3 linked regions of the Homo sapiens genome follow. The protein of the gene in region 1 interacts with the protein of each later gene in a pairwise test. Each region holds a gene or a part of one and is shown in the gene's direction. Other genes may lie near its edges.

What was found.
Region 2: the proteins of SGTB (region 1) and ITPRIP interact in binary tests that used the Homo sapiens proteins (3 or more experiments, as listed by UniProt).
Region 3: the proteins of SGTB (region 1) and RNASE10 interact in binary tests that used the Homo sapiens proteins (3 or more experiments, as listed by UniProt).

Annotation. Positions count from the first base shown.
Region 1 is NC_000005.10:65,673,421-65,677,169, reverse strand, and holds part of SGTB (small glutamine-rich tetratricopeptide repeat-containing protein beta), read left to right. Parts: intron 1-3,749. UniProt on the Homo sapiens protein: Co-chaperone that binds directly to HSC70 and HSP70 and regulates their ATPase activity.
Region 2 is NC_000010.11:104,336,572-104,340,320, reverse strand, and holds the start of ITPRIP (inositol 1,4,5-trisphosphate receptor-interacting protein precursor), read left to right. Parts: upstream 1-1,855; 5' UTR 1,856-2,075; intron 2,076-3,749. UniProt on the Homo sapiens protein: Enhances Ca(2+)-mediated inhibition of inositol 1,4,5-triphosphate receptor (ITPR) Ca(2+) release.
Region 3 is NC_000014.9:20,508,435-20,512,183, forward strand, and holds part of RNASE10 (inactive ribonuclease-like protein 10 precursor), read left to right. Parts: intron 1-2,032; 5' UTR 2,033-2,037; coding exon 2,038-2,688; 3' UTR 2,689-3,749. UniProt on the Homo sapiens protein: Secreted proximal epididymal protein required for post-testicular sperm maturation and male fertility. May be involved in sperm adhesion to the egg zona pellucida. Does not have ribonuclease activity.

The DNA of each region.
Region 1 (3,749 bases):
TGATGGTTGTTTGTATTTCTGTGGGGTCAGTGGTAATATCATTTTTGATTGTGTTTGTTTGAATCTTCTCTCTTTTTTCTTCATTAGTATAGCTAGCGGTCTATTTTATTAATTTTATCAAAAAACTAGCTCCTGTATTCATTTTTTTTTTTTTTGAAGGGTTTTCTGTGTCTCTATCTCCTTCAGTTCAGCTCTGATCTTGGTTATTTCTTGTCTTCTGCTAGCTTCGGGGTTTGTTTGCTCTTGTTTCTCTAGTTCTTTTATTTGTGATATTAGGTTGTCAACTGGAGATCTTTCTAGCTTTTTGATTTGGGCATTTAGTGCTATAAATTTCTTTCTTAACAAGAATGAAATTTTAGCTGTGTCTGAGATTCTGGTATGTTGTATCTTTGTTCTCATTCAAAGAAGTTCATTCTTCTCATTCAAGAAGTTCTGCCTTAATTTTATTATTTACCCAAAAGTCATTCAGGAGCAGGTTGTTCAATTTCCATGTAGTTGTGTGGTTTTGAGTGAATTGAGTGCCATGTGGTGATGAGAAGAACGTATATTCTGTTGTTTTTGGGTGGAGAGTTCTGTAGATATCAGGTCCACTTGATCCAGAGCTGAGGTCAGGTTTGAATATCTTTGTTAGTTTTCTGTCTTGATGATCTGTCTACTATTGTCAGCAGAGTGTTAAAGTCTCCCACTATTATTGTGTGGGAGTCTAGTCTCTTTGAAGCTCTCGAAGTACTTGCTTTATGAATCTGGGTGTTCCTGTATTGGGTGCATATATATTTAAGGTAGTTAGCTCTTCTTGTTGAATTGAACCCTTTACCATTATGTAATGCCCTTCTTTGTCTTTTTTTTTTCTCTTGAGACAGAGTCTTGCTCTGTCACCCAGGCTGGAGTACAGTGGCGCAATTTCAGCTCACTGCAACCTCTGCTTCCTTCTTTGTCTTTTTTGATCTTCTTTGGTTTAGAGTCTGTTTTGTCAGAAACTAGGATTGCGACCACTGCTTTTTTCTGTTTTCCATTTGCTTGGTAAATTTTCCTTCATCCCTGTATTTTGAGCCTATGTGTGTCTTTGTATGTATAGTGGGTCTCTTGAATACAGCTCACTGATGGGTCTTGTTTTTTTATCTGGTTTGCCATTCTGTGTCTTTTAATTGGGGCATTTAGCCCATTTACATTTAAGGTTAGTATTGTTATGTGTAAATTTGATCCTGTCATCATGATGCTAGCTGGTTATTTTGCAAACTTATGTGGTTGCTTCACAGTGTCACTGGTCTGTATACTTCAGTGTGTTTTTGTAGTGGCTGGTAACAATTTTTCCTTTCCATATTTAGTGCTTCCTTCAGGAACTCTTGTAAGGCAGGTCTGGTAGTAATGAATTCCCTCGGCATTTGCTTGTCTGAAAAGGATCTTATTTCTCCTTTGCTTATGAAGCTTAGTTTGACCAGATATGAAATTCTGGGTTGGAAATTCTTTTAAGGATGTTGAATATGGGCCCCCAATCTCTTCTGGCTTATAGGGTTTCTGCTGAGAGATCTGCTGTTAGTCTGATGGGCTTCCCTTTGTAGGTGGCCTGGCCTTTCTCTCTGGCTGAATGGCAGGGTTCTTAACGTGTCCATGTACCTCCTGTGGGAAAGCCATGGATGGACTTTAGGAAGCTCATGGATTTTTCCAAAATTATATATAAAAATCTGTGTACATGTGTATGTGTGCATTTTTCCAGGGAGAGCATCATATTTTTCATGAGATTGGCACAGGAATCTGCCAATATATGAAAGGTTAAAAACTACTCTCTTACATAAAAGTGGTCCTAGGAAGATATCTAACATCTGCAGTTTGAGTATTTGGCCATTGTGGTTCCCTAGCTTGCCCCTCAGCATTGTCTGCCTTGTTTTCTATCTTTAGAGTTTATTTGATATAGATAGATAGATATAGATATAGATATCTCATGTGTTTGTCTTCTATTCTTACAAAACAACAAAATAATGTATGGGCCTTTTTGAGAACATACACGCTCTGGTCCAATATGTGGTAACTTTGATTTAGTGGGTTTAGGATGTTACCAGGGCATATCAAGCTCCTGGGGTGACTGTATACTTTGGATGAGAATTATTCTATCCATGATATGCCCTTGGAAGGCAGGAATCAGTTTTTATTCATCTTTTGTTTCCTTCAAAAAATGTGTCTTGCATCCATTAAATCTTCTGTTGAACTGAAATGCACAGATGACTCATTCCCAGTGAGATAAGTCTTTTTAGCAACTGGTAGTTTTTATTTTTCCCTTATCAAATTTCAGCCTTCTTACCATGCTAGCAAATACATGTTTTGTAGATCTTGTGACTTCATTTTTTTTTTTAAGAATGGTTACCCATTCTAGGACTCAGGTTATGGCATTGTAACAAGATGTGAAAAATGGAATTCTTTTAGTTTCAGATTTGGCTTAGGCTCCAAGCTGCTATGTACCAAAATAAGGTGTGAGACCACCATGTAGGAGTTGCAAAAGATGGGGATAAAAAACATGTTTTGTGACTCATAAAAAAGGCCAGGTTGATGGAAATTAAAACATGATTTTTGGAGAGAGCTATTAGAGTTTTAGGGCTCCCTATATGAAGGAATTAGGGAGGCTTGCTCTCATCTCAAGCCCTCACTGAGAAAGGGCTTTTCTGGTACAGAGACTTTCTACCTGATAGTTCAACTGGATAGCCAGTGGCAGAATTAGCTGTGTGGTTTGGGCAGTTACTGTACTGATGAGAGTGGAGCAGAGGTGTTTCCTGTGGACCAAGGTGAGCACACACAATTGTGAGAGAGTGTGTCTGAATATGTTCAAGAGGCTTTCCTGGAAGTGTGACAGGATCCCAACACAGAGAATCTCTGGAGGACTGCCAAGAACCTAAGACTGAAGGGAAAGTCATAGCATCCATCCAGAGGGTAAATTACCCTTTTCAAAGAATAGGTAAGAAATCTCCAGGGCCTAGGGAAAGGAGAAGTGTCTGAAGAACATGAGAAAGTACCCCATAAGAGAACCACAGTAGTTTTTGAATACCTTGCAAACTCAAAAAGCACCAATGCAAAACTAGTAAGATAATACCAGTCATCAAATAAGAACTTTGCTGCTCCTTTCACCTTTCCCTCCATTTAACCCTCAACCTGGAGGGCCACAACTCTTAATCAGCAAGCTGAGGGAAGAGGACTGGAAGTACTACAGGATAAAGAAGCACTATAGGCCTTGGTGTGCTGGCTCACACCTGTAATCCCAGCACTTTGGGAGGCTAAGATGGGCGGAGCACTTGAGGTCAGGAGTTCCAGACCAGCCTGGCCAACCTGGCGAAACCCCGTCTCTACTAAAAATACAAAAATTAGCTGGGCATGGTGGTGCATGCCTGTAATCCCAGCTACTTGGGTGGCTGAGGCAGGAGAATCACTTGACTCCGGGAGGCAGAGGTTGCAGTGAGCTGAGGTCATGCCATTGCACTCCAGCCTGGGTGACAGAGTGAAACTTCATCTCAAAAAAAAAAAATAGCCCTATAGGACAGCGGTCCCCAACCTTTTTGTAACAGGGACTGGTTTCATGGAAGACAGTTTTTCCATGGACCATACCGGGTGTAGGGGGTAGGGGCAGGATGGGGAGAGGAGCGTTAGATTCTCTTGAGGAGCACTCAACCTAGGTCCTTCACATGCGCAGTTCACAATAGGGTTCTTGCTCCTATGAGAATCTAATGCTGCAGCTGATCTGACAGGAGGTGGAGCTCAGGCAGTAA
Region 2 (3,749 bases), on another chromosome or scaffold:
AAAAAGCATATCATGCAAACAGCATATCAAAGAGCATATCACGTTCTGGGAAGCACAGGTTCCAAGAACTGCAAGGAGTTTTGTGTGGGACACAGAGTGAGATATGAGGCTGGTGAGATAAGCAGAGGCCAGTTCATGAACGACTTACAAGCCAGGTAGAAGGGTGGACCTTAGAACAGACAGGAACCAATCAGAACACAGAAGGTGAAATCATCAGGTTAAAAGCAAAACAAATATAATAAATATTCCTTATATAAATATACATGGCTGGTTAGAAATTGCTGAAACAACTTTGCAGACGGGATGACAATCCCAGAGGGCATTCAAGCACTAACCTTGGCATTCCAGCACAACGCTGAACTCTTAGCCCAAGGATGACAAAGCTCAGCCCAGCGCTCTTACTTCACAGAAATTTCCCCCACCTGCTTTGCGGAGGGTGTGAGTAACCCACCGGACCAACTTCTAGACATTTTGGAAATACAGCTCTTTCAAGACCGTTTCCCCAGATCGCCCCCACCACCTCCAACACACATACTGGCCCCCAAAATTCTGCCATAACCTCTTACGTAAGGAAAGAATTTGAGCAGCAGTAGAAACTTGAAAACAAAAGTACCCTGGGCCAAGGGCCAGGGAGTCTATTTTTAGAACATTTTCTCATTGCCTGTTTATCTTTCAGACTCAGCCAAAAAGTCTTCCAGGCGAGTGTTAAAGGAAAAGACGAAAAAAAGGTGATCTAAGACCAAATAGCAGTAGCAATGGTGATCATTTTGGACACTGTGTTCCAATTTCCCCAATGTGCCTTCACTGGCATTTGGTGCCCCCAAAGCCGCTTAATGGAGAATTCATTCAAACCCTGCTCTGCCTTTTGTACTGATGGTAGGATTTGGGCAGGTCAAAGGGAAGACAATAGAAGTTATGGATTTCATAAACTATTAAGCTCGACCAGAACGCTGCTGCTGCTCCTCCAGGCCTCAGTTCTCTCGTTTCTAACATAGGGGTAGTAACACTTGATCTACCGTCACAACAGTAACCAGAAACTACCGCGCCTGTCCCGTACAGTATCCGGTCACTGTTCTCCTTTGTGCCCGGTTAATCCCGGAGAAAAGCAACCATGCATTTGATTATCATAAAAGTCGGGCGCGGTGGCTCACGCCTGTAATCCCAGGCGCTTCGGAAGGCCGAGAAGGGAGTTCGAGACCAGCCTGACCAACATGGAGAAACACCTTCTCTACTAAAAATACAAAATTAGCCGGGCGTGGTGGCACATGCCTGTAATCCCAGCTACTCGGGAGGCTGAGGCAGGAGAATCGCTCGAACCCGGGAGGCGGAGGTTGCGGTGAGCCGAGATAGCGCCACCATTGCACTCCAGCCTGGGCAACAAGAGCGAAACTCCTTCTCAAAAAAAAAAAAAAACGGTAGTAAGCTATTTTAATCCTTTCAAGCTGCAAAAGAGAAAAAGGCTGGCGTTTTGTCTAGAGTTATATTTTCCTCCAAGAGACTAAATAGGTGGCCCCAGGAATTCCGCCACTTGTAAAACGCGCCGCAGAAAACTCTCCCCGACTGGTAAGGACTTAACCCCTTCCGCTCCGCGGCTTAGGACGACTTTTAAGGGCGTCCTCCCCGCGCCCCTGTCCACTCGCTCCAGTTTACTCCACTGGCCTGATTCCGTCTCTCCCAGTCACTCTCCAGTTCTGCCGTGCCGGGGAAGTTTCTGGGGGCTCACTGGGAAGGTCTTCCCGGCGGATCCTGGGCCCAACCACCGAAACCCACACGGTCCTCCTTAAGGAGCTTCCGGGGCCGCGGGTAGAGGCGGGTGTTTTGTTCTTATAAGGAGGAAAAAGTTTTTGTGACATCCAGGAAATGAGTAACTCTGAAGTTCAGTAGAGCCGGCCGCTGCAGGCCAGAAGGTGGGAGCCAGCGGGGGCATCGCCGCCCGCGCCCCTCTAAGTGCCGGGCCGCAAGCTCCACCGCAGCCGCCTGCAAGCAGCGGCGCCTCGGCCCTCGACCTGCGCGCAAAGCCTGTGCTGGAGCCGTCCTCCCGCGGCGGGGACCGGGACCGGGGACCCAAGCCAATCGTAAGTCCCAGGGCAGCCTAGTGTGCTGAAGGAAGAAGGGCGCGATGGAGAGCGCGAGCTCGGAGGAGCTGTGTCGGAGATGGCTGCCGACAGAGGGGGCGCAGGAGGGTGTGGGGAGCGCGGGCGCCTGCTCCTCCCGGGTGGGGGCTGACTTTGGAGACCCCCTTCCCTTAAAGCGCGCGTGCCCAGGCGGGCGTATTGTCTCCTCGCGGTCCCGCATCCTGTTCCCGCCGCGTCGGGGGATGCGTCCCGGGCGCTCGCTCCAGCCAGGGCTGCGGGCAGCTCCTCCTCGAGGCGCGCGCAGCCTCGGAGCCCAGAGCGGGACCACATTTTTGTTCCTAGTGGCCAGGTGACCCGTTACTTCTCACATCTGAGCAGAGCGCTACCGAAGAAAGAAAAGCCGGTTCGCCCTGCTCATTTGCTGCCCCCTTTTCCCCTTCCCCTTCCCTCCCTTCCTGTAAGGGAGGAATAGGCGTGAAGTTTTTTTTTCTCGGTTCATGGTAGTGAAGTTATGGGGCTGCTTCAGGCCGGATAAAATCCCCGCCGCTTCCTCTTTCGGGACTATTAGTGGGCCAGACCTCACGCTGTGCAGACTTGCTCTTGGGCTGCAAATAACTCTCTGCCCCTTCACCCCTAACCCCACCCTCAACCCCATCCCTGTGACTTTGCCATTCTGGCCGCCTGGTGAAGACTCCCGGGGCGGGACTCCCCATCCAAAACGCTTTCTCTTAAAAAAAGAAAAAGAAAAAGAAAAAAAAAGCCACCGACCAGGAAGGTAAAATATTTTACGGAACCAGGCAGGGGCCTCATTTTGCCTTTTGCCCCTCTGCTGGTATGAGAAAAGCACCCTTTCACAACTAGTAGAGTACCAGATACTGGTCTCATTTCACAAACAGTAGAGTACCAGATATTGGTCGCAATCTGGACTCTGGTCTTTTGGATCTAAATCGGGGTCGCGGTCTATTTTCTTGTTCTTTTTTTGGATATGACCCAGTGCTCTTGCCTTTTACAAACCGAGTCTATCTGACTGCCAGCTAAAGTTCATCTGTGGTTGGTGCAGTTTTAGGCCCAGGTGAGCCCTGAAAATAGAGTATCAGAAAAGTGGATTACTGTCTTTCCTCCTTACGAAAACAGAATAGGCTGTGTTTTTGAGTCCTCCCTCCAGCCCTCGTGCCTAAGTGGCTTTCATTGTTTGCTAATTCCCTGTATGTTGCGGCTGCTCTGGGCCATTCTGCCTTCGGATTTTCTCCACTTGTGGGTAACCATGAAGTAGTTATACTGACTCTCTGCTCTCCCTGGGTGCATTCTTCTCATGCTCAGTAAATCTACATTTTACGTAAGATAAAGTAAGCATGTGAAATTATAGCTATCTGTTTGGCAACAAAAGGAATGCAGTTTTGTTTTCGGTTTTGTTTTTTGCATGACTGAGTTCCCAAGCTTAACTTTTCCCTTTGGCATCCTGAGCTTGGGGTCCTAAGGTTGTATTTTCCTTTCACAGCTATCAGCAGAGACAGGTAGCCATCAACAGTTAGGAAAGAGTCTGGGCTGGGTGGCTGCCTGTCTTCCCAGAGCTTTGGGAGGCTGAGGTGGGAGGATTGCTTGAACCCAGGAGTTCCAGGCTTAGAGCTGGGATCACTTGGTTGGGATCACTTGGTTGGAGCTAGGATCGTGCCA
Region 3 (3,749 bases), on another chromosome or scaffold:
CCCTTTGTCCAGCGTGTCCATGTTGTAGACACCACCCACCCATTAGCTACTTAGTGGCCAATATCAGATGCACCGTCACAGTATCTCAGCGCCTGTGTTCACATAACCCTTATTTTACCTAGTAATAGCCGCAAAGTGCAAGAATGATGATGCTGGCAATTCAGACACGTCAAAAAGAACCCGTAAAGTGCTCCGTTTGAGTGAAAAGGTGAAAGTGTCTCAACTTAATAAGGAAAGGGGGGAAAAACATGCTGCAATTGGTAAAATCTACAGTAAGAAAGAATCTTTTATCTGCAAATTTTGAACAGTATATTGTTATAATTATTCTATTTTATTAGTTGTTGTTAATATATATTACTAATTTATAAATTAAACTTATGTAGATATGTATGTATAGGAAGAGAACAGTACATATAGGGCCTTAGACATTCACTGGGGTCTTGGAACATATTCCCTGTGGATAAGGGGGACTGCCATAATACTCTTATCTACTACAGAGATCATACTTTTATCAATTGCCTCAATAATGTTCTTCATAGCAATTTTTTTTTTTTCTGGCAGGGAATGTGTCTCTTTGTTAAGGGGATGAGACTGGCCTAGCAAGACAAAGATGCATGCTCAGCTCTCCTTAGGATCTTCTTTTTTTGAGACAGAATCTCACTCCGTCACACAGGCTGTAGTGCAGTGGCACCATCTTGGCCTTCTCACGGGTTCAAGCAATTCTCGTGTCTCAGCTTCCCCAGTGGCTGGGACTACTGGTGCGTGGCACCATGCCGGCTAATTTTTGTATTTTTAGTAGAGATGGGGTTTCACCATGTTGGCCAGGCTGATCTTGAACTCCTACCTCAGGTGATCCACCTGCCTTGGCCTCCCAAAGTGCTGGGATTATAGGCAGAAGCCACCAAGCCTGGCCTCCTTAGAATCTTTATGAGTAGGGGAACCCCCAGCAGGTCAATTGTTTGATTTTCTTTGGTTTCATTCTTATTCCATTTCTTCCCTGAGAGTATAAACCTAATCAGCAAGACTACTCAGATGTTAAGAGATCTTTAATAGTAGAAGGAATCTGGCTTAACAAGATGTAGCTTTAGCAGGGGCCTGAGATGTAAAGTTGGACATCTTCCCTCCAGCCTCAGCTTAGGAGTAAGAATGGACTGTGGTACTTTTTCTATTCCTTTTTATCTTTTGTGGGGAAGGTGGGTAACAAGAAGAGTAATAGATATTTGAATAAGCAAAAGCAAATTTGGGTTAAAAATAAAGAGATGGTCTTCTGTGGTAAATCTAGTCCTATATTGACAATAAGGCTTTCTACAAGAATTTCCCTAAAGGAGAGTGTGACACTGTACACGCTTGTCTTCTCAATCATTCTCTGGTTATTTGGCACAAATTTCTGTTTAAGAATCAATTGATGTCAGGGGCATGGTGGCTCACACTTGTAATCCCAGCACTTTGGCCAAAGTGGGATGATTAATTGACCGCAGGAGTTTGAGACCAGCCTGGGCAACATAGCGAGACTCGTCTCAAAAAAAAAAAAAAAAAGAGCTGGGCATGGTAGTGTGTGCCTGTGATCCCAGCTACTTGGGAGGCTGAAGCAGAAGGATCACTTGACCCTGGGAGATTGAGGCTTCAGTGAGCTATGATGGTGCCACTGTACTCCAATCTGGGTGACAGAGCAAGATCCTGTCTCAAAAGGAAAAAAAAAAAAAAAAGAATCAATTGATGTCAACTTTCCTCACTGATTTCCCATATGTAAATTACCTCAGAACTGCTTCCCTTGGTCATCTCCCTACTCTTCAAGAGAAGAAACATGAGGAAACTTCCACATTTTATTACACAGCAACAGGGAATGTGGTAGGGAGGAACAAGAGAAATGGGAATGGAAAGAGAAATCGCTGCCTTGAAGAGGGTAGAGTAATGTGCAGAAGACACAGGAGACCCCAGATACAATGCTGTAGGGCTTAGTGAGATTACAGTCTCTACTAGAGCCAATTTTGATCTCAAAGTCACGTTCTTCCATTTCCCGCTTCCTCTCCAGGCAAAATGAAGCTGAATCTGGTGCAGATCTTTTTCATGTTGCTGATGCTGCTGCTGGGCCTGGGGATGGGCCTGGGGTTGGGACTTCATATGGCTACAGCAGTCTTGGAGGAGAGTGATCAACCGCTCAATGAATTTTGGTCCAGTGACTCACAGGACAAAGCTGAGGCCACTGAGGAGGGAGACGGCACCCAAACCACAGAAACGCTGGTGCTTAGCAACAAAGAAGTGGTGCAACCTGGCTGGCCAGAAGATCCCATCCTCGGTGAAGATGAGGTTGGGGGTAACAAGATGCTCAGAGCCTCAGCTCTCTTTCAGAGCAACAAAGACTATCTTAGGCTTGACCAGACAGATAGAGAATGCAATGATATGATGGCACACAAGATGAAGGAGCCCAGTCAGAGTTGCATAGCCCAGTATGCATTCATCCATGAGGATCTAAACACAGTCAAAGCTGTCTGTAACAGTCCTGTCATTGCCTGTGAGCTCAAGGGGGGAAAATGTCACAAAAGCTCCCGACCTTTTGATTTGACATTGTGCGAGCTGTCCCAACCAGACCAGGTCACTCCTAACTGCAATTACCTAACTTCTGTTATAAAAAAGCACATTATTATAACCTGTAATGACATGAAGCGCCAGTTACCAACTGGACAATGAAGCAACTCATCATCTTTTTTCTCTTCACCTTCTCCTGTTCCTCTTCCTTTTTTACTTCTTCTTTCTCATATAGTTCTCCTGATCTTAGGTATCATGCAGATGGAATTCTTCCTTGCCCTATGGGTCACCCAACTTGCATTTTGTTCCTAGGATTAGAGATGGTAGGATAAGGTGATGATGCCTAGTTTCTCTAAGCTCTCTGCCTCTCCTTTCCCTTACCCTGGAAAGGAGTAAGTGAAGAGCTGCTGTAGTCCGTACTGTAGTCCTGGCCATCCATTTGTTTCCTGCTCTGCTCTGAGTTTGTCTCTGGATGTGGACTGGAAGAGTTTAGTGTATCCTTTACCCATGTTCTTCCCTGCTGCCCACCCTGAGCCTCTACAACAATCACATAAGACTCTTGGGTTTTGCACAACTGCACTTCTCTATTGCGGATGAAGTTAAAGTGATTCTATCTGTAATGGCTTCTGGAGGACCATGTGGAACAGGCTTCCTTTTCCGAGCTTGGAAAAATTTAGGGCCTAGGTATGGGGGTCTGCTGGGGAGGTGGTGTGGTGCTGTAGAGCAAGATAGAAGATGGGCTGGAGCAAGAATAGAACTCTTTTTTCTTGACCCTTCACTGCCCTTTTCTCTTTCTTCCCACCTTTTACTAGCAGCCTCCTTGCTTGGCTTCTTGTTTTCATCTCTTACCTTTGCTTTTGTCCTTTGCTTCTTTTTCTCCTTACTTTCTCTGTTCTCCTTTTCCTCTTCTTTTTCTTTTTGGGCCCGCTCTTCTCTTTATCTGGATCCTTTTAGAGATTCAGTCAGCCGATACTGATCACTTATGCTATGTTGGTCCTATAGTCAGTCATGCAAGCAGATGTTCGTCCTATAGTCAGAGTCTGGCACAGGGAGTTAGAGGGGGGTGGGTCAAGAGAATGAGAAAAAGAGAGAGGAAAAGAGAGAAAGAGAAAGAGAGAGTGAGAAATCTTTTTTGAATTATGTCCAGAAGCAGAATAGTGCTCATATGAGGTGCCCAGTAGATGTGGGATGAATGGGATGGGAGACAGTCTTTTTCTCATTTA